Regions from separate parts of the Homo sapiens genome. Here region 1 is linked to region 2. The links come from fine-mapping of genetic effects on plasma protein levels. Region 2 holds a variant in brackets. A gene starts in the other region. All regions are shown on their reverse strands.

Region 1 (11,626 bases), not on the chromosome of region 2:
CACCATCATCAAAGACCAAAGGTAGATAAAACCACAAAGATGGGGAAAAAACAGAGCAGAAAAACTGGAAACTCTAAAAATCAGAGTGCCTCTCCTCCTCCAAAGGAACGCAGCTCCTCACCAGCAATGGAACAAAGCTGGACGGAGAATGACTTTGACGAGTTGAGAGAAGAAGGCTTCAGACGATCAAACTACTCCAAGCTAAAGGAGGAAGTTCGAACCCATGGAAAAGAAGTTAAAAACCTTGAAGAAAAATTAGACAAATGGCTAACTAGAATAACCAATGCAGAGAAGTCCTTAAAGGACCTGATGGAGCTGAAAACCATGGCACGAGAACTACATGATGAATGCACAAGCCTAAGTAGCCAATTTGATCAACCGGAAGAAAGGGTATCAGTGATGGAAGATCAAATGAATGAAATGAAATGAGAAGGGAAGTTTAGAGTTAAAAGAATAAAAAGAAACAAACAAAGCCTCCAAGAAATATGGGACTATGTGAAAAGACCAAATCTACGTCTGATTGGTGTACCTGAAAGTGACAGGGAGAATGGAACCAAGTTGGAAAACACTCTGCAGGATATTATCCAGGAGAACTTCCCCACTCTAGCAAGGCAGGCCAACATTCAAATTCAGGAAATACAGGGAAAACCACAAAGATACTCCTCGAGAAGAGCAACTCCAAGACACATAATTGTCAGATTCACCAAAGTTGAAACGAAGGAAAAAATGTTAAGGGCAGCCAGAGAGAAAAGTCGGGTTACCCACAAAGGGAAGCCCATCAGACTAACAGCTGATCTCTCGGCAGGAACTCTACAAGCCAGAAGAAAGTGGGGGCCAATATTCAACATCCTTAAAGAAAAGAATTTTCAACCCAGAATTTCATATCCAGCCAAACTGCACTTTGTAAGTGAAGGGGAAATAAAATCCTTTACAGACAAGCAAATACTGAGAGATTTTGTCACCACCAGGCCTGCCCTACAAGAGCTGCTGAAGGAAGCACTAAACATGGAAAGGAATAACCAATACCAGCCACTGCAAAAACATGCCAAATTGTAAAGACCATCGAGGCTAGGAAGAAACTGCATCAGCTAATGAGCAAAATAACCAGCTAATATCATAGTGACAGGATCAAATTCACACATAATAATATTAACCTTAAATGTAAATGGGCTAAATGCTCCAATTAAAAGACACAGACTGGCAAATTGGATAAAGAGTCAAGACCCATCAGTGTGCTATATTCAGGAAACCCATCTCACGTCCAGAGACACACATAGGCTCAAAATAAAGGGATGGAGGAAGATCTAACAAGCAAATGGAAAACAAAAAAAGGCAGGGGTTGCAATCCTAGTCTCAGATAAAACAGACTTTAAACCAACAAAGATCAAAAGAGACAAAGAAGGCCATTACATAATGGTAAAGGGATCAATTCAACAAGAAGAGCTAAGTATCCTAAACATATATGCACCCAATACAGGAGCACCCAGATTCATAAAGCAAGTCCTTAGAGACCTACAAAGAGACTTAGACTCCCACACAATAATAATGGGAGAATTTAACACCCCACTGTCAACATTAGACAGATCAACGAGACAGAAAGTTAACAAGGATATCCAGGAATTGAACTCAGCTCTGCACCAAGTGGAACTAATAGACATCTACAGAACTCTTCATCCCAAATCAACAGAATATACATTCTTCTCAGCACCACAGTGCACTTATTCCAAAATTGACCACATAGTTGGAAGTAAAGCACTCCTCAGCAAACGTAAAAGAACAGAAATTATAACAAACTGTCTCTCGGACCACAGTGCAATCAAACTAGAACTCAGGATTAAGAAACTCACTCAAAACTGCTCAATTACATGGAAACTGAACAACCTGCTCCTGAATGACTACTGGGTACATAACGAAATGAAGGCAGAAATAAAGATGTTCTTTGAAAGCAACGAGAACAAAGACACAGCATACCAGAATCTCTGGAACACATTCAAAGCAGTGTGTAGAGGGAAATTAATAGCACTAAATGCCCACAAGAGAAAGCAGGAAAGATTTAAAATTGACACCCTAACATCACAATTAAAAGAACTAGAGAAGCAAGAGCAAACACATTCAAAAGCTAGCAGAAGGCAAGAAATAACTAAGATCAGAGCAGAACTGAAGGAAATAGAGACACAAAAAACCCTTCAAAAAATCAGTGAATCCAGGAGCTGGTTTTTTGAAAAGATCAACAAACTTGATAGACTGCTAGCAAGACTAATAAAGGAGAAAAGAGAGAAGAATCAAATAGATGCAATAAAAAATGATAAAGGGGTATCACCACCGATCCCACAGAAATACAAACTACCATCAGAGAATACTATAAACACCTCTATGCAAATAAACTAGAAAATCTAGAAGAAATGGATAAATTCCTCGGCACATACACCCTCCCAAGACTAAATCAGGAAGAAGTTGAATCTCTGAGTAGACCAATAACAGGCTCTGATATTGAGGCAATAATTAATAGCTTACCAACCAAAAAAAGTCCAGGACCAGATGGATTCACAGCCAAATTCTACCAGAGGTAAAAGGAGGAGCTGGTACCATTCCTTCTGAAACTATTCCCATCAATAGAAAAAGAGGGAATCCTCCCTAACTCATTTTATGAGGCCAGCATCATCCTGATACCAAAGCCTGGCAGAGACACAACAAAAAAAGAGAATTTCAGACCAATATCCCTGATGAACATAGATGCAAAAATCCTCAATAAAATACTGGCAAACTGAATCCAGCAGCACATCAAAAAGCTTATCCACCATGATCAAGTGGGCTTCATCCCTGGGATGCAAGGCTGGTTCAACATATGGAAATCAATAAGCATAATCCAGCATATAAACAGAACCAATGACAAAAACCATATGATTATCTCAATAGATGCAGAAAAGGCCTTTGACAAAATTCAACAACGCTTTATGCTAAAAACTCTCAATAAATTAGGTATTGATGGGATGTATCTCAAAACAATAAGAGCTATCTATGACAAACCCACAGCCAATATCATACTGAATGGGCAAAAACTGGAAGCATTCCCTTTGAAAACTGGCACAAGACAGGGATGCCCTCTCTCACCACTCCTATTCAACATAATGTTGGAAGTTCTGGCCAGGGCAATCAGGCAGGAGAAGGAAATAAAGGGTATTCAATTAGGAAAAGAGGAAGTCAAATTGTCCCTGTTTGCAGATGACATGATTGTATATCTAGAAAACCCCATCGTCTCAGCCCAAAATCTTCTTAAGCTGATAGGCAATTTCAGCAAAATCTCAGGATACAAAATCAATGTGCAAAAATCACAAGCATTCTTATACACCAATAGCAGACAGAGAGCCAAATCATGAGTGAACTCCCATTCACAATTGCTTCAAAGACAATAAAATACCTAGGAATCCAACTTATAAGGGATGTGAAGGACCTCTTCAAGGAGAACTACAAACCACTGCTCAATGAAATAAAAGAGGATACAAAGAAATGGAAGAACATTCCATGCTCATGGGTAGGAAGAATCAATATCGTGAAAATGGCCATACTGCCCAAGGTAATTTATAGATTCAGTGCCAACCCCATCAAGCTACCAATGACTTTCTTCACAGAATTGGAAAAAACTACTTTAAAGTTCATATGGAACCAAAAAAGAGCCCGCATTGCCAAGTCAATCCTAAGCCAAAAGAACAAAGCTGGAGGCATCATGCTACCTGACTTCAAACTATACTACAAGGCTACAGTAACCAAAACAGCATGGTACTGATACCAAAACAGAGATATAGACCAATGAAACAGATCAGAGCCCTCAGAAATAATGCCACATATCTACAACCATCTGATCTTTGACAAACCTGACAAAAACAAGAAATGGGGAAAGGATTCCCTATTTAATAAATGGTGCTGGGAAAACTGGCTAGCCATATGTAGAAAGCTGAAACTGGATCCCTTCCTTACACTTATACAAAAATTAATTCAAGATGGATTACAGACTTAAACATTAGACCTAAAACCATAAAAACCCTAGAAGAAAACCTAGGCAATACCATTCAGAACATAGGCATGGGCAAGGACTTCATGTCTAAAACACCAAAAGCAATGGCAACAAAAGCCAAAATTGACAAATGGGATCTAATTAAATTAAAGAGCTTCTGCACAGTGAAAGAAACTACTATCAGAGTGAACAGGCAACCTACAGAATGGGAGAAAATTTTTGCAATCTACACATCTGACAAAGGGCTAATATCCAGAATCTACAATGAACCCAAATAAATTTACAAGAAAAAAACAAACAACCCCATCAACAAGAAGGCGAAGGATATGAACAGACACTTCTCAAAAGAAGACATTTATGCAGCCAAAAAACACATGAAAAAATGCTCATCATCACTGGCCATCAGAGAAATGCAAATCAAAACCACAGTGAGATACCATCTCACACCAGTTAGAATGGCGATCATTAAAAAGCCAGGAAACAACAGGTGCTGGAGAGAATATGGAGAAATAGGAAAACTTTTACACTGTTGGTGGGACTGTAAACTAGTTCAACCATTGTGGAAGTCAGTGTGGCGATTCATCAGGGATCTAGAACTAGAAATACCGTTTGACCCAGCAATCCCATTACTGGGTATATACCCAAAGGATTATAAATCATGCTGCTATAAAGACACATGCACATGTATGTTTATTGCATCACTATTCACAATAGCAAAGACTTGGAACCAACCCAAATGTCCAACAATGATAGACTGGATTAAGAAAATGTGGCTCATATACACCATGGAATATTATGCAGCCATAAAAAATGATGAGTTAATGTCCTTTGTAGGGACATGGATGAAGCTGGAAACCATCATTCTCAGCAAACTATCTCAAGGACAAAAAACCAAACACCGCATGTTCTCACTCACAGGTGGGAATTGAAAAATGAGAACACATGGACACAGGAAGGTGAACATCACACACCGGGGCCTGTTGTGGGGTGGGGAGAGTGGGGAGGGATAGCATTTGGAGATACACCTAATGTTAAATGACGAGTTACTGGGTGCAGCAAACCAACATGGCACATGTATACATATGTAACTAACCTGCACGTTGTGCATGGGTACCCTAAAACTTAAAGTATAATAAAAAAAAAAGAGAGACATTTTAAAGCTGGGTGTCCGGAAGCGACATCACATGTCGGCAGGTTCCATGATGCCCCCTGAGCCGTAAAACCAGCAAGTTTTTATTAGCAATTTTCAAAGGAGAGGGAGTGTACGAATAGGGTGTGGGTCACAAAAATCACATGCTTCATAGGGCAATAAAAGATCACAAGGCAGAAGGTCAAGGCGAGATCACAAGGTCAGGGAGAAACTAGAATTACTAGTGAAGTTCCATGTCCCACTGTGCATGCATTGTCATTGATAAACATCTTAACAGGGTTCAAGAGCAGAGAACTGGTCTGACTAGAATTCGCCAGGCTGGAATTTCCTAATCCTAGCAAGCCTAGGGGCACTGCAGGAGGCCAGGGCATGTTTCATCCCTTATCTGCAACTGCATAAAGCAGACAACCCCCCCAGAGCAGCCATTTTAGAGGCCCCCCTGGGAATGCATTCTTTTCCCAGGGCTGTTAATTATCAATATTCCTTACCAGGGAAAGAATTCAGTGATATTTCTCTTACCCATTTTCGGTAATAAGAGAAATATGGCTCCGTCCTGCCTGGCTCCCAGGCAGTCAGACCTAATGGTTATCTCCCTTGTTCCCGAACATTGCTGTTATCCTGTTCTTTTTTCAAGGTGCCCAGATTTCATATTGTTCAAACACACATGCTTTACGATCAGTGTGTGCAGTTAATGCAATCATCACAGGGTCCGGAGGCAACATATATCCTCAGCTTACAAAGATGACAGGGTTAAGAGATTAAAGTGAAGATAGGCATAGGAAATTATAAGAGTAGTGATTGGGGAGGTGATAAATGTCCATGAAATCTTCCCAATTTATGTTCTTCTGTCACGGCTTCAGCAGGTCCCTCCGTTCGGGGTCCCTGACTTCCCACAACATCTTTCCCTTTCTTTTTATATAAATGTGCTATGGTGATGAAGGCTTGTTCATTCTCTCGATTTTGATGCAGGATTCTTTGACTGGTCTGGCACACTAAAGACAAGTCAATTAAACAGAGAAACCTAATTCCAAATTGCACTAGGCTGTCCCCCTGAAAAGCTGAGTCTTTTTCACTACCTGGCTAGAAGGCATATGAGAAACGGAAGCAGGAAATTCACAGAAGAAAAACTATACATGACTATGGAACATTTCAATGTAATTTTTAAAATTACATAGAAAACATAGGCATAGCTAGTTGTCCATGAGTTGCCTTGTCTAGCTTTTTGTAGTCATTGATTAATCCTCACTTTCAGATTTCACAAATCTCGACCCACTTTATTTTTATAGAATGAGATCATCTCTTGATAGAGGCCTTTGCAGTCTGATCACAACCTACAGTAAGAAATGCATTCTATATTATGACCCAGTACACATATTCCTGTACATCATTGAAAGGTTCAGAAAGCAATATTTTCATCATTAGGTGCAATGTCTCCTGTTTTATATTTTATTCTGTTCTATTGCATTTTTTAAAATGCTGGTCATGAGACCTGCAAAACCCATTCCATGACCCACCAATAGTCTGAGGCCAATGATTTGAGACTTTTGAGAGAAAAACAAACTTGGAGGACTGACACTGCCCAACTTAAAGACTTACTACAGCCAGGCGCAGTGGCTCACGCCTGTAATCCCAGCACTTCGGGAGGCCGAGGTAGGTGGATCATTTGAGGTAAGGAGTTCAAGACCAGCCTGGCAACATGGTGAAACCCCATCTCTACTAAAAATACAAAAATTAGCCAGGCGTGGTGGTACATGCCTGTAATCTCAGCTACTCGGGAGGCTGAGGCACAAAAATTGCTTGAACCTAGGAAGTGGAGGTTGCAGTGCACCGAGATAGCGCCACTGCACTCCAGCCTGGGCAACAGAGCGAGACTGTGTCTCAAATAAGTAAGTAAATTAATAAGTAAATGAATAAAAGACTTACTACAAAGCTACAGTAGTTAAGAAAGTGCTATTGGTAAAAGAATAGACAGATGAATGGAACAGAATAGAGAGCTCAGAAATAGACCCACACAAATATGGTGAAATGGTCTTTGACAAAGGAGTGAAGGCAATACAATGAAGAAAGGATAGGCTCTTTGACAAATGGTTGTGGAATAAATGGACGTCCACATGCAAAAAAAAAAAAAGAATCTAGATCTAGACCTTTACTCAAAATGGTTCATAGACTTAAAGGTAACATGCAAAACTATAAAACTCCTAGAGGATGACACAAGAGAAAATCTAGTTTAGTTTGATGATGACCTTTTAGATAAATCACCAGTTTCCTCCATTAAATACAATCTATGGAGGAAAAGGACTGATGAATTGGACTTCATTAAAATAAAAAACTTCTACGCTGGAAGAAAAGAAAACAGAATTGATATTCTCACCAGCTCCTAAACAAATTGGCTTTTCCAGGAAAACTCAGTTCCCCTGACACTCCTGTCTGTGGGCTTGGCCAGAGTGTGGGCATAGCAGTAGAGCTCCTCTCTCTTCACCCATGGCCTCAGCAAAGCCCCCAGTGCCCACTTTGCTCTGGCACACAGTGGTCTCAGCAGGAAGCCCCGTCTCTTCTGCTCCCAGGAGCCACACTCAGGTGCACTGTGAATCTCTTTCACAGTCACGTCTGCACCTGCAGTCTCCCTCCTGCAACATGCACACTGTTGCGACTGACTGCAGGCCACTCTGGCATCATGAGAGATGGCCGTTGCTGCTCCTGTGGAAGAGCAGACTCACCCTCTTCCAGGAACAGCCTTGGCTGCAACCCATGCTACCTTCCCCTGCCCTGGGGCATTACAAGGTCACACGAGATCAGCCTTTCTCAACCAGGGGCAATTTTGCCACCAGGAAACATGCAATGCCTGGAGACATTCTTGGTTGTCACAACTGGGGACTACTGGCACCTAATGAGTAAAAGCCGGATGCTGCTAAACATTCTATAATGCACAGGACAGCTCCCATCACAGAGAATTATACACCCTTAATGTAATAGTGCTGGGATGGTTAATGTTATGTGTCGACTGAAGTGGGCTAAGAGATGCCCAGAGGGCCAGTAAAGCAGGATTTCTGGTTGTGTTCATGAGGGTGTTTCTGGAAGAGATTGGCATTGGAATCTCCAGAAAGTAAACAAGATCCATCCTCACCAGTGTGGGCTGGTAACATCCAGTTTGTTGAGTGCCAGAATAGAACAAAAAGGTGGATGAAGGGCAAATTCTTTCTCTTCTTGAGCTGGGATATCCATCTTCTCCTGCTCTTGGGCCTTCAAACTCAGGATGAATTACACCACCAGCTTATCTAGTTCTCCGGCCTGTAGATGGAAGACTGTGGGACTTCCCAGCCTCCATAATCACATGAGCCAATTTCTACAATAAATCTCTTCTTATATTCCTATATCCATATCCTATTATTTCCAGTTTTCTGGAGAAACCTGACTGATAAAGTGCCATGGTTGGGAAATCCTGCCCTAGATTTCTTTCTTTGGTCCTCGAAGCCTCACCCCTATTCCCCATAAATCCCACACCTGCAAGAAGAAAGGAAATGTAAAAAGAGTCCCTTCTGGGAACGGATGCTGATTCCTATGTAGATTTCTCTATTGAGAGATAACTGTTGCTCAGTAGTTGGACACTACTAGTTCACTTTTTTGAGGATTTCAAAACTGAGGTCTCTCTTCTCTATGGATGTTTTTTTTCCAGTCCTATTGCTTCAAATATCATCTAAACACTTTCAACCCATAACTTTATTTCCTGTCTGGGCCTCTTTTTCTGAGCTGTACTGGACATCTCAAATCACACGATTTGTGGATATCTGAAATTTAATTCCCAAACTGAATCCTTGGTGTCCTTCACCTCCCCACACCCAATACTGGTCCACCCCAGTCTTCTTCCTCTCAGTCTATGACCGTCATCCCCTGCCCACTGGCTTCATCACTGGGTAGTCGTTCCATCCCCTTGACTCCTCCCCTTGTCCAGCAACCTCCTAACATGCACACACACACACGCACTTATGGGGAATATTAGCACGCTTCTTCATCTCAAGCCCCCCCTCCCTCCCCCAGCCCATCTCCTAGAATGGATTCACTTGAATTCACTCCTGGTTTGCAGGAAAGTGCAGAAATCCAAGGAATGTGGTGGGAATTGGTGGTCCAACTTAAAGGGTCTAACCCTTTCACCCTTATCTCCCTCTGATCCATTTTCTACCCCAGAGCCAGAGTGATCTTAAACCATAAGTAAGCTAAGGTTACTGCTTTCTAGAAACACTTCAATGCCTTCTATTACAGTTGGGGGGATACAAATTACGTAACGTGGCTTGCAAGACTCCCCCTCCCCTACTTTGAATGGTCCTTAGGAGTTGGCCTTCTGTCAGGGCCTGGGAGATGCCGAGCTTGATCCTCAGTAACTTTGCAGAGGCTGTTCCCTCTTTGGAGCCCTTCCCTCACTCTTCCCCTTACCAAGGACAATCACTTCTTCGGTTCTCAGCTCCTGTGAGACCCCAGGCGGGAGCATTTGGGTGTGCGTCATTGGAGGGCTCACTTGCCATTCTTTCTCTTTTCCCTCTTTCCTCCAATGGCTCCTGTGGAGGTTTTGAGACTCCTCAATGTCACTCTGCTTCTCTCTCCAGTTCCAGTCCTAACAATAGGAACCCTAGGTGCCCCGCCCCAGCCTGCTCCAGTCCCCTAGGATAGAGCAAGGAGAGCTCTTCCCTGCATCTAGCCTGTGACAAATGGCTCTAGTGACAGCCCTCTCTGCCTTGTTTCCAGTCCTTTAATGAGCTGCCCGCAGCCAGCCTCACTCTCACTCTGCTCTTCACACCCACTGAGCCCCACGCTTGGAGCTGCTGGGGGTCTGCCAGAAAGACCAGCTCCTAAGATCCCTGCAGGCTGTGCCTGCTCAACTTCTCAATGTGGCTTTCTCAGCCCTGCTTTGTGCTCTCATAAAATTCTATCGACTTTGGGGTTTTTTTATAAATTTGTCCAAATTCCACTCAGAGTATTGTTTCATGCATCTCAACTATGATTTTGATGGGTTTGGGGAAGGAAGGTGAGTTCCTGGGTTCTGCTGATATCTGAACCTGGAAATCTTACCCATATTGCTGAGTGCTGCACCGGGAAGTGCAGGCTTACTTTGGGGCTGCCTTCAGGGGCAGGAGGCTGTGTGCAATGCAGGCATCACCTGGTGCAGGGCTGGAACATATCAGATGACTTAATGGGCTCCAAACTTGAAATCAGGGCTGCTTAGTAAAAGATGGGATGTATGTAGAATTACATAAGAAAGATCCAAGCTTCCAGGATTTGGAATGAAACAGTCTCTTCAGAATGTGCTCTCAGGATTCCCAGAGGCGAGCTATTTCTCAAGATTTCCTTGACCTTTGTCACCATCAGGAATTAATGTTTAACTGGCACATGTGGCTGGAAATGCAAGAAGAGGGAAACGTGTGGCTTGGAGTTTCAAGAAGAGTGACTGTCTCAGTGCCGAGTGCCTCAGCAGCTTCTCCACATGCTCTTCAGTCCCCAAAGTTGGAGAATCCCATCAAGGAGAGTAGCCCTGTAAGGAATTCGAATTTCCAGCATGTAAGTCTCTGATTTTATACCTACTCAGATTGTAGTAGTGGAAAACAGCAACATGTACCTTGACTCTCTGGCCCCATGTTACTGAACATTTGCTTAAAGGTTAACTCACTTGAGGGAGCTTGTGTGGTGCTTTCTCTTCTGCTGCAGGCTGGCAGGGGTTTTTGTTCAGTGGGGGCTGTGCACTTGGTGGCTCTCCATGCACACACAGTCACTCCAGTGACACATGTTTGATAGGTGCTGGGAATGATTTCATGACTGGCTCAGTAGCAAATGCGGGCCAGATGTGATTCTATTTTTTCCATGCACCACCAGGGATGGTGTTGGGTATTTTATTCCCCCAGCCTCTGTTTCTTCTGTAAATGAGGATTTTCTTAGTATCTACCTTGTGAGGATTAAATCCCATGATTTTATGGAGGTGATTAGTAAATGTGAACTCTGCCCTTCCCTTTATAACATCTGAGGCTCCGTCAGGGCTCTCTCCTTTTGGTGTATGTTATAGTTTACTTAGAGGTCAATTTGGTGTCTACCTATGCAGTGTGATTTGAGGAGAATTAGAAGATCTTTCCCACCAACTTGCCATGCTGAGTACAATTCCCATCTGAAAACATATGCGGATAGGAATTTCTATTGGGAGAATTGTTCGGTTATCGACTTCAAGGAGTCGAAGTTCTCCTGGTTTTAAGTCTGTTGTCGGAAGTATATAAGAATCAAAGCTTAATCGATGGAAATCATTGCTCTCCATCATGCGTGAGTTAAAACCATTACTTCTGAGTGGTCAGTTTACATTGGGCTCTGTCTAGAAGGTTTGCCTTCTTCACCTCCAGTCACATCCCCATTTCACAAGTGAGCAAACAGCCAGAGGAGGGGAGGAGGATGGCATAAGATCTTGCAGCTGGCAGAGACGAAATGTGAATGTA
Region 2 (11,357 bases):
AGGGGGCAGGCCCTGGTAGTGGTCCCGCTTCAGAATTCTTCATCCCAGGACTCAGCACTTACTGAGCACCTTGTGTTTGTTGCAAGGTCCTGGCATGGCCCTCTGGTGACTTGTTTACTTTGAACATTCTTTCCTTTTCTAACCCCCTCAGGGATGGGGGCAGGGAACAGCAGCCTGTTGGGTTTTTCCAGGCCTCTCCATGGCGTGGACCAGACTGGGGCAAAGACACTCTGCCCACTCGCTGGTGAACAGTCCTAGGCCGGTGCTGTGGGGACAGGACATGTTCGGGGAGGCGGGGCCCCATGAGCCACGGGATAGGATGGCCCTGGGGCTGCATGGACACTTGTTCCTAGGTTAGAGAGGAGCTGTCGCACTGCAGGACTTGACCGGTGTGCGGGACCCCAGCGACCTGGCCCTGCCCCAGTGTGTGAGCACTTTGGAGCAATAGGCAGGGGGCTCCTCCGGCTGTGTGTCCTTGGGAAGTTGCCACACCTCGCTGGGCCTTTTAGACATGGTCTTATAAAGAGAGAACAAAGGGTCTCTCCTGCCTTCAGGGAAGTGGGGAAAGCAAGTCAGGTAATAAACAGGTCAGTGGCTTGGAAGCGCCTTGGAAAGGAAGGGATACTGCTCCTCCCCCAACCCTGACCTTGCCCGGGCAATGCCCTCCACTCAGAGCAGTCTCTGCTCACTTCTGCGGGCGGCAGGATAGGCTGTGCCTCCTGAGATGGGTGCATCTCAAGCCCAGAGGAGATTGGGTTGGATTTGTTCCCGGATCACTGTCTTGGCTCTGGGCACCAGAGGGAGAGAGACACAGCCC[C/T]GCCCCACCAAGCCGCGGTTGGAGAGCAGCCCAGCCCAGACAGGGCAGGAGAGGCCAGGGCAAAGCAGGGGGTTCCCTGGGGGCTGGGAGCCCATCGTGGGGGGCGGGGCATGGTGGTCAGGGAAGGCTTTCTGTGGAGGTGGGGACATTGGCTCTGAGCCCTGGAGGGCAGGGAAGGTGGGTGAGCAGATCTGGCTCTCTGAGATGTGTGGAAGGGCATCTAGGCAGAGGGAACAGTGGGAGCAAAGGCTCAGAGGCTGGACCACAGAGCACATGAGGGCCAGGTAGGAGGTGGGGGGATGGGAAGCCAGGCCGATGGGAGGGGCCTTGCAGGCCTGATCACGGTCTGGTGTCCAGGGAGCTGTGGAAAGGCTATGAGCCAGTGTGAGGATGAGCACATTTCCCCTTGAGGGGTAGAAAACTTCGAGGGCCGCTCTGCTCACCCAGCCTGGGGGCCCAGGACCACCCAACACACCTGTTCCTCTTCCCAACCTCAAGACCTTGCTTCTCCGTTTCTTGGGCACATCATGTCAGCACTCTGTGCCTCAGTTTCTCATCTGTGAAATGGGTGTGGTCGCGGTGCCTGCCATAGAGAGTGGTGAGGACTCAGTAGCTGATGTATATGAAGTGCTTAGAGCCAGGCCAGCACTCAGCGCCCTCATCCTTCTGCCTGCCACGGAGACCCTCTCCCACTGGTGACCCCTGGCAGTGGTTTGGAGAGGGCAGCGCTTTGCCCAGCTCCCTCAGTTTCCTTTTCTGTAAAATGGAGAGTCTCAGTTTCCTTTTCTGTAAAATGGGGCACAACTGCTCACCTCCCAGGGTGGACAAGGCTCAGGGAGGAGCCACACGTGGAACTCCAACCTGGGTGGGCTCTGTTGGGCCACGGCCGTGGGAAGCTCTCAGGTCTCCCCTACCCCGTGTGCCCTGCGCCCCTGTGGCCCTTCATGTGAGGGCCCCCATCAGTGTCCAGGGATTGAGTCAGCTCACTTGTGGCTGTCAGCAGAAGGAATAGTAAACAACAATGTTAATGTGAAAATGGCCTGAATCTGTTATCCCCAGGGTGTCTCAAGGCAGGGAGGTGGTGGGGATGGGGTTAGGACACGGCCATCTGGTGCCAGCCACACCTTCCTGCCCCTCACAGCCCGCAGGTTGAAGGTTCCTGGGGCCACATCTGGGCCGAGAGGCATGGTCCTTGGAGGTAGGTAGCTGTGCCCTGTATACCTGCCGTCTGGGCCGTGCATGGCCTCAGCTGCCCAGGAGGAGGTTTGCTCGTTTCCTCATTTCCGCTTTCCTGGCAGATCCTGAGGCCGGCAGGGTCTGGGCCAAGTTCTAAAAGGCAACCCTAACATGGTCTCAGGGCCACTCGTGGCCAGTGCTGAGTCCGCGGGAAGTGGGTCTGCCTGGCCCAGCTGTGGTGGGAACCCCGCCTTCCAGCACTTCCTGCTGTCTTGCTGGGGTTTCCTGCCAGGAACACAGACATGGAGCTGGGAGACCCTCTCAGGGCCTGCTTCCTGGGCTGGCCGGTAGGAGACGGTGCAGGGCTCCAGTGCCAGGCCCTGCCTGTCTGTGTGGCATCTGGGGAATGGGCACAGCAGCTCATGCCCACACTGGTGGGTCAGACAAGGGATGCCGGAAGCCCCAGGCAGGTCCTAGCATATGGTGGGGTAGAAGAGGGGTGCCTGATTTTCAGGTCGCCCCACCATCTGCCAATGCCTGCTGAGTCCAAGGGTTAGGGCCAGTGAGCAGGACAGGCTGCGAGCAGCCAAGGTGTAGACTGGGACCCCCCAGGCACCCAGGGCAGGCACCTCGTCCCTGTTGTCCCCCTGGGTCCTGCTCAGCACAGGAGAACCTGTGCCCCAGGCTGTCCTTTCTTTGCTGTGTGACTGTTTTGTGAGCCTGTTCAGCTGCTTTTGAGTCAGTGGAGTTGGTCGGGGAGGCAGAGTCTTTCAAAACAGTGAGAGCCAGGCATCAAGGAAAACAGCCCTGCCACCCACTGCCATGCGCTCCACCAGCCACGGGGCATCTGAGACCACCCCATTCAGTCCCCTCCACATCCTTGTCTACCCATTTTACAAATGAGGAAACTGAGGCATAGAGTGGTCAGTGTTGAGGCAGGACTCGGGGGGTAAAGGAGGTGCTGTGGCAGCTTCCAGCCCTACTCCTCACAGGCCCCTGGAAAGGGCGACTGATATGCATCACCACATTTGTGGGCCCACAGCCCCGACCCTGTCTCCTCCCATCCAAGCCCTGGGTGAGCCAGAACACCCATTATGCTATGGCCAGAGCCAGGCCGGTGGATGCAGCAAGCCTGGTTCATATCCCACTTCTGTGCCAGCCCCTCCTGCCTGAGCTGAGGATGCTCACTGAAGTGGCCCTAGGACCGACCGTGTGGCCCAGCCCCAACATGTGCAGCCTGCAGTGGGGAGGCCGACCGTCCACAGAAGGTTGCATGAGGAGCCAGCCACGCCCCTACACAGAGCTGACCTCCTCACCAAGCCTCCCTCCTAGCTTTCAGAGGAAATATATCTGGCCTGGCCCCAGGCCCCGAGTGCTGCTGAGGTTCTGGGAATCTATTAACCAGGGTGTTTATTCCCTGCCCTGCCCAAGCCATGGGCACTGGTCTCAGCAGGGCTTAGCTCCTGGCAGCTCCTGCTGGCTGGTCAGGACCACAGGGCTCCCTCACCTGTGGTAGCTGGGTCCCCCGGCCACCCTCAGGCCCATCCCAAGATAGAGGCAAGTGCCCAGGACTGGGGGAGAGTGGGATCGTCCTCCCTGGGACCCTCCTGTGTGGTGGTCAGCTCAGGGCTCCAAGGCCCAGAGTACCAAGGTTAGGGACAGGGAAGCAGACTGTCCCTGCTGCCCTCCCCTCCACATGATGCTCCCAATGTGGCCTGCTGCCTGGGGTGGTTGCCAGCTATGCTGTATCCTGGGGCAGCCCTATGCTTTGGGACACACAGTCCTGGGAGATGGCTCTGGGAAAACCTCCTCTGAGCTGCAATCTGCTGGTCTGTAGAATGGGAGAGGAACACAGCCTCTCCCTTGGTAAGCAGGAGTTTCCCAGGTGCAACCCTAGATATACGGAGGGGGAGACTGAGGCCAACGGAGGGGGAGCTTGCGTCAGGGCCACGGGCTGGGCTGTGGTGAGCCAGGGCTTGACCTGCATGCAGAAGCTTCCCTAGCTGCAGGTTGGACAGGAAGCAGATGGCCGGATGGGCTGGAAGTGCCCTTCACCAGCAGGGGTGCATGGTCAGGGCATTTGCTGGCCACTCGGGGCTCAGAGGCCATCCTGGGGCATCTGCTCCACAGCCTCGTGGTACACATGGAAGACTGAGGCACAAAGTGGGGCTAGTTGTCCGGACACAGCTGGAGCCTGAAGCAGGGAGCCATTGAGAGTTCAGCCCCTAAGGGACAATGGCATCAGCTACCAGAGCTTCTGAGCCCCGGGGCCTGGGTTCAAATCCTAGCCAAGCCCTCACTTGCTATGTGGCTTTGGGTAAGGAACCGCCTTTGCTGGGCTTCAGTTTACCCACCTTAAGTGGGCATGAGGACAGCAGGGGCACAGGCTCCTCGTGGCTGGGGGTGCTGAGAGCTGAGGCTTGGGGAGCTGGAGGCTCTGCGCGGATGGTGCTTTTTAATGGATCTGAGTGTTCCTCGTGACTGCATGGCTGTGAAATATTTAAATGGTTCTGCAGAGCTCAGAAAAAAAGGGAATTCTTCCTCCTGCCCAGAGGCCAACACAGTTAGCCTGGGCTTGTGTGTCTGTTTATGTACGTGTGCATATGTATGTATGTGCATGTGTATTTGTGTGTGCGTATTGTGTGCACATGTGTGTCTCACGTCTATGTGTGTCTTTCTGGGGGATGTGTGTTTCTGTGCTTTTGTGACTAGGAACACGCACATATATGTGTAGATGCCCCCAGAAGGTGGAAATCCTCACGGGGTCTGCACTTGGCCTTCTCCCAGCACCAAGTCCTGGGATGGAGACCCGAATGAGCATAAGGGTGGCCTTGAAGGAAGGCACTTTGGCACTTGAGGTTTGTGAAACTTAGGAGCACATGCCCACTGTGGCCAGCAGCCCCTGGGACACTGCACCTTGCGGAGCACACGTGTGATGGGGTGTGGCCCACTGGGCAGCTTCGCAAGAGCAGAACTGGAGACGACCTCAGTGCCAGGCACAGGCCCTTGTGTCCGGGCTGTCCTCACCCAGACCCTGGGCAGCCTGGGAGGAAGCCCCTAAGTGGACAGTGGTGGGACAGGGACACACAGTCCTGGGAGGTGGCTCTGGGCAAACCTCCTCCAAGCTGCAATCTGCTGGTCTGTAGAATGGGAGAGGAACACAGCCTCTCACTTGGTGAGTGCCCTGGCTGTGCTGGGGCCTGGGGGAATCCCAGGGAGTGCAGCGTCAGGCCCAGGGTGGGAGAGGCAAAGTAGACACCCCATAGAGGCTTCGGGGTATGCATGGAGTGACCCGAGAGCACACCAGGGCCCCAGGGACAGCGCTGCTGGGTGGCCCAGGTAAAGGCGGCTGTCCCTGTGCGCACATGTGTCCACGTGAACTTGCTACTTAGAGAGCAGCTGATGCTGAAGGCAGGTTGTTGGAATTCCCAGGCCCAGGTGTAAGCAGCAGAGCCCACCAGTGTCCCCTGACGCCCACTCTCTTCCTCCTGGGCACATAATTTTAGATGAAACTGAAAAACACGCAGCATGAAAGCAAGGCCCCTGCCCTCTGCTGGTTCTGTATTGGCTGCCTCGTGTATTTTTCCAGCCTGCAGAAAGTCGAGGCCTGGATGGATACCATGTCCGCCCCTCCCTGTGGCCCTGCGGCACCCCGGCCTCCCGGCCTGCATCTTTCATGAGTCTGGAAACAGGATCTCCCAGAGAGGGCCCCAGGAGGTTGGCTGCCAGCAGTGGGTTCTCACAGCTGCCTCCAAGCAGGTGACCAGTCCTGGGAGGCTGTGGTCTAGGGCCTGGCAACTCAGGGGCGCCTGTGGACAAAGGGCCGGGCCAAGGGGCTGGCAGGTTTGTCCTGAGTGACTGAAGAGGGCCCCACCAGGGCAGCTTGAGAGGGGCAGACTCTTGCTCCAGAGAAAGAGGAAGTTTGGTACTTAGCTTGGAATGAAGGGCCAGCCCTAGAGAGGACCTTCCTGTGGCAGGAGAGAGGGCCATGTCCTGCCAGGGGAAGTCCTGGGAGGCTTCCTGGAAGCAGTGGCCTCTGTGTGGGGCCTTGGAGCTTGAGAGTGTCTGGCACCAGGGAAAGGCATTGGGGGCTTCGAGAGAACTGCAGGGGGCCCTGACCAGATAGGCCCCTAAGGCAAAGAGGATTCCATCAGAACTCGCATTCCCATTTTATTACTCTGGGAAGTAATGTGGAAGCTAAGCTCCACTGTATGTCGTATGCTGAGGCATCTGTTGAGCCTCTGCTGTGTCGGGGCCGGGCTCTGGGTGGCCCACCTCAGTGAAGTCTTGCTGCTAATGGCCGAATAGTTCTGCAAGGCCTGTGCTGAGGCCTGGAGGCGAGTGGCCTGTTGGGCCCCAAGGCTGGGAGGTTGGGAGGTGGCAGGGGCGATCTCTGCCCTTAGGTCCGGCCCAGGAGGACTTGCTTCTTGCCTGGGCCGGTGTGCACAGATCTGTCCGCCCACACGTCACTTCCTTTCCTGGCATCAGGAGCTCAGACTCTGAGGGGAGGGGGAGAGGAGGCCGGGGGCACAGACCGGTAGGGGCAGGCAGGGAGGAGCAGCCCCGCCTATGGCAGGAGTGGGAGGATCGGGCAATGCTTTCCAGTGGAAAATCAGAGTGCGTGTGCTAAGGTTGCTATGTCGTTTCCTTTCTCTCCAGGACCGTATTCCTAGGGGAGGTTTTATAAAGGCTGAGCACATGCTCGCAGCCTCTCCTTAGGGTAATAAGCACTTCTGTCTGAGCACTTACCAGGGGTGGGGGCAAGGGAAGCCCTCACCTGCAGGGCCCGGTGACCCCCAGAGCCCGACTCAGGCACAGCCCTTGCCCCCCTCCCCCACCCGCCTTGCTGACCATTCCCCTCCCTGCAGCCGGCCCGCTGGGGCTGGAGGCACGGGCCCATCAACGTGAACCATTACGCCAGCAAGAAGAGCGCAGCCGAGAGCATGCTGGACATCGCGCTGCTGATGGCCAACGCGTCCCAGCTGAAGGCCGTCGTGGAACAGGGCCCCAGCTTCGCCTTCTATGTGCCCCTGGTGGTCCTCATCTCCATCTCCCTTGTGCTGCAGATCGGCGTGGGGGTGCTGCTCATCTTCCTTGGTAGGTCCCCAGGTGGGGGCAGCCAGGCCACCTGCTCACCTTGCTGGCATCTGCTCGCATCGCCTGGGACAGGTGCCCACCACCTTGCACACTTGGCTCTCAAGGAGCTGCCGAGTTCCTGGCCCTCATCACCCAGACATGCAGTCCAGGAAGTGGCACCCCCCCTCCCCCCACCCTGCACTTTGGTTTTTGTTTTGTTTTGTTTTGTTTTTTGAAACAAGGTCCCCCTCTGTCACCCAGGCTGGAATGCAGTGGCGCAGTCTCGGCTCACTGCAAGCTGCATCTCCTGGGCTCAAGCGATCCTCCCACCTCAGCCCCCAAAGTAACTGGGATTACAGGCGCTCATCACCATGCCCGGCTAATTTTTGTATTTTTTGTAGAGATGAGGTTACGCCATGTTGCCCAGTCGAATTTTTGAGCTCAAGTGATCCAACAGCCTCAGTCTCCCAAAATACTGGGATTACAGGCATGAGTCACCACGCTCAGCCTTGTTTTGTTTTGTTTTGTTTTGTTTTTGAAACCGGGTCTTGCTGTGTCTTGATCACAGCTCACTGCAGTCTCAACCTCCCAGGCTCAAGCGAGCCTTCTGCCTCAGCCTCCCAGGTAGGCTGGACCACAGCTATATGCCATCATGCCAGCTAATTTTTTTATTTTTGGTAGACACGGGGTCTTGCTATGCTGCCCAGGCTGGTCTCAAACTCCTGGGCTCACGTGATCCTCCTGTCTCGGCCTCCCAAAGTGCTGGGATTACAGGTATGAACCACTGTGCCTGGCCCCACCCTGCACTTTGAAAGAGCACAGAGTGGGGTCAGGGCCTGGCCTGTGGGCATTAGGGCAGGTGTTTCACCGGGTTCTTGTTGACCCATGCCATGAGATGGCCTCAGTCATGCCAGTCCTACCTTCTGGGCCCAGGGTCCCCTTCATGGCTGCGTAACCTTGGGCAAGTGGCTGAACCTCCCGGGCCTCACTTATAAAACAGGCATCATAATAGAACTGCAGCTTGTGGCAGGAATCACTAGATTAAGGCACGCAAAGGGCTCAGTGCATTTGCCCAAACCTGGCCTTTGGTTGACGTCCATAGCTTCAATTCGTATAAGGAAAATATGGGGGCTACAGAAGGTGGGGTCATAGACCGTGGGGTTGCCCAAGCCAGGGGCGCTGTTGTCCATGTTTCAGCAAAACAGATGTATTTTTCTCTGGGCGACAAAACTCATCCTAAATGCGACTGAGAGCCCTGTAATGTCCCAGGACAGCTTGACCGCTGGGGTGGGTCCCCTTCCACTGTCCCAGGCTGGGGCGCTGCGTCTGGGCTGCCCTTGGCACCATCCACTCCTCTCTCGCCCACAGTCAAGTACGACCTTAACAACCCGGCCAAGCACGCCAAGCTGGACTTCCTCAACAACCTGGCCACGGGCCTGGTGTTCATCATCGTGGTAGTCAACATCTTCATCACGGCCTTCGGGGTCCAGAAGCCCTTGATGGACATGGCACCCCAGCAGTAGGACACCCAGGTGAGCTGGGAGATGGGGCGCGAGGCCTGCAGTCCTGGGGTTGCTCGCTGTTGGAGGCTCTTGCAGTGTGGTGAGTCCCTGGCCGGCCAGCCTTGGACACCTTCCTAGGCCATGGGCATCCTCGTCCACACCTACAAGGCCAATGCCTGGCCACTGCCTTGAGGCCAGCCCTGCCACTGGTGCTGGCCACCTGGGGTCCTGTGGTCACAGTGTTTAGATGGAATGTGTGTAGGAGCCACCATTTGAACATCCTGGAGAACTCACTTAAACGTAAGATTTCTATACATTCAGAATGTCTGTCCGATAAAAAAAAAAAGATTTCTGGGTCAGGCGCGGTGGCTCATGCCGGTAATCCCAGCACTTTGGGAGGCTGAGGCGGGCAGATCACTTGAGGTCAGGAGTTCGAGACCAGCCTCGCCAACAGGGTGAAACCCCGTCTCTACTAAAAATACAAAAAGTGGCCAGGCATGGTGGCACATCCCTGTAGTCCCAGCTACTCAGGAGGCTGAGGCAGGAGAATCGCTTGAACCCAGGAGGCAGAGGTTGCAGTGAGCTAAGATCGTACTACTGCACTCCAGCCTGAGCGACAGAGTGAGACTCTGTCTCAAAAAACACCCAAAACCCAAAGATTTCCGGCTTCTCTTGATAAGTCAGGGGCTCTGCACCCCTTATCAGCTCCACTTAGCAGGTGAAGCTTCCTCCCAGCCCTCGTCTGAGAAAAAGGGACCTTGGTATGACCGCCTGCCTGACATGCCCACCTCACTGTGCCACTCTGACCAGGACGGTGGGATTCAGGATCTTGTCACGTGGAGCCCTTGTGACTCTTCAAGTCTGCCCCTTGCCGGGCCTCGCAGAATCTGTTAGCTGCCTGCCTTAGGCTGGACCCTGGCTGTGTGCAGGATGCAGACTGAGGCTGTCTCTACAGGACGAGGCACCCAGTGTAGGAAGACTTCTCACACCACATACAGCCTCTCCCTGTGTCCTTGCTCAGAGAGGGTGAGCGTCTGCCCAGTGACACAGCCTGGGAGCAGGATCCACAGGAAGGCCTGGGATGCAGCCATGGCCAGGGCCACATGGTGCACACACTACAGTCCATGCAGCCAGGCCAGGGCCACACACCACAGTCCCCGCGACCTTAGGCCTAGGGGTCACCCCTCCGGTTTGTAGCAGAGGTGGAGGTGAGTTGCTAAGGGAGGGGTGGGCACTCCTGGCAGGTGGCCATCTCTCCACCAGTGGTGGCCCATGGCAGAGTAGACAGGAGCAGTGCTCTTGGGGCAGAGCGCCTGTGTGTCAAGGATATATAAAAATTTCCCCAGGCCAGGCACGGTGGCTCACACCTGTAATCCCAGCACTTTGGGTGGCTGAGGCAAGCGGATCACCTGAGGTCGGGAGCTTGAGACCAGCCTGACCAACATGGAGATACCGTGTCTCTGCTAAAAATACAAAATTAGCCAGGCGTGATGGCGCATGCCTGTAATCCCAGCTACTCAGGAGGGTGAGGCAGGAGAATCGCTTGAACCTGGAAGGTGGAGATTGCAGTGAACTGAGATCACGCCATTGCACTCCAGCCTGGGCAACAGTATGAGACTCCATCTCGGGAAAAAAAAAAAATTCCCCAAGAGGGCATAGTGAGGATGAGGTGGGGCGCTGGGGCCAGCAGCTGGGTTGGGAGCACCCTGCATCCACCTGGCCTCACCCCTCCCCACACGGGGGCCAACGAGTGACCGCTGCTCGTAGTGGCCCATGGCCTCTCAAGCTCCCCTACCACACCCAAGGCCATTCCCCCAGTGGGATCACGCCAGCCCCCAATGTCCCGGCCGTGGAGCCTGAAGTCACCCTCCTGAAAGGACCTGGATCTGGGCGGCCCCATGTGGGGTCCGAGTCACTGTCCAGATGCTGCCTCCAGTTTGTAGTTAAGTTGTCCTCTTCCAGAACACCTAGATGTCAGCTGCTCCCTGGCTTGGGCATGTGGCCAGGCCATTTATTAATCACCTGCTGTGTGTGCTGAATGCAGTCCCTAACTCTCCCAAGCATGAGTTATCTGCCTGCCGGGAAGAGGGTGCTGCGTCTGTGGGCCACGTGGGGACCCAGCAGTGGACCTTAAAGCTGTCCTCAGAGGCTCGGAGGCCAAAGCTGCTGTGTGTCCTGCGTGGAGCAGTCAGAGAGGTCTCAGGCTTCGTGGGTGGCTATGGTCACAGCTGCCCAACCCGAGCCCCCCATGCTGGGCCAGGCCTCTAAGTCCTGGCAGTAACCCAGCCATGCTATATTCATTCCATTTTCAGAGGGGAAACTGAGGCATGGAGTACTTTGACACCTCTCATGTCAGAATCAGGCTCTTCTCCTTCCTGAGTCCGGGTGTGCAAATGGCCCTGACACTCGGGGCTTGTCACAGCCTGGCTCAGAGCCTCTCCTCTCCCTCCTTCCAGGCTCAGAGCCTCTCCTCTCCCTCCTTCCAGGCTCAGAGCCTCTCCTCTCCCCCCTTCCCAGGCTCAGACCCTCTCCTCTTCCTCCTTCCAGGCTCAGACCCTCTCCTCTCCCTCCTTCCAGGCTCAGACCCTCTCCTCTCCCTCCTTCCAGGCTCAGACCCTCTCCTCTCCCTCCTTCCAGGCTCAGAGCCTCTCCTCTCCCTCCTTCCAGGCTCAGAGCCTCTCCTCTGTCTCCTTTCCAGGACCCTGGATGTTGCCTGCCCTGCAACTCAGCTGCCCGACCCCAGGAGTCGCCATACCTGTGAGGTGTCCACCTCCCTGCACATGGCA

Direction of the effects. Alleles are on the strand shown, and positions count from the first base shown. The strength of an association depends on the size of the effect and on how common the allele is.
In carriers of allele T in region 2, the plasma level of the protein whose gene starts at base 10,589 in region 1 tends to be lower than with C alone (weak association).

Evidence for each region. A credible set is the group of variants that fine-mapping cannot tell apart. PIP is the posterior inclusion probability: the model's chance that the variant is causal. Protein levels are from antibody-based Olink assays in UK Biobank. Linkage for the fine-mapping came from a reference panel and not from the study's own genotypes, which makes the PIPs less certain.
Region 1: it holds the start of DDC, and the variant in region 2 is the best candidate, but not a certain one, in a credible set for the plasma level of the DDC protein (UK Biobank, PIP 0.56).

Annotation. Positions count from the first base shown.
Region 1 is chr7:50,564,368-50,575,993 of GRCh38, reverse strand. DDC (dopa decarboxylase) reads left to right here and starts at 10,589. Exons shown (of 15, transcript NM_001082971.2): 1 at 10,589-10,709. RefSeq lists an enhancer at 5,201-5,726.
Region 2 is chr9:93,122,143-93,133,499 of GRCh38, reverse strand. NINJ1 (ninjurin 1) reads left to right here. Exons shown (of 4, transcript NM_004148.4): 2 at 6,862-7,090; 3 at 8,438-8,601; 4 at 11,270-11,357. The coding sequence ends at 8,592. It overlaps LOC124902212 (a long non-coding RNA gene), which reads right to left and starts at 488. Exons shown (of 3, transcript XR_007061665.1): 1 at 1-488. RefSeq lists enhancers at 1-44, 1,526-2,123, 2,124-2,722, 5,349-5,408, 6,166-6,817 and a silencer at 8,422-8,586. The variant C/T (reference allele first, on the strand shown) is at 818.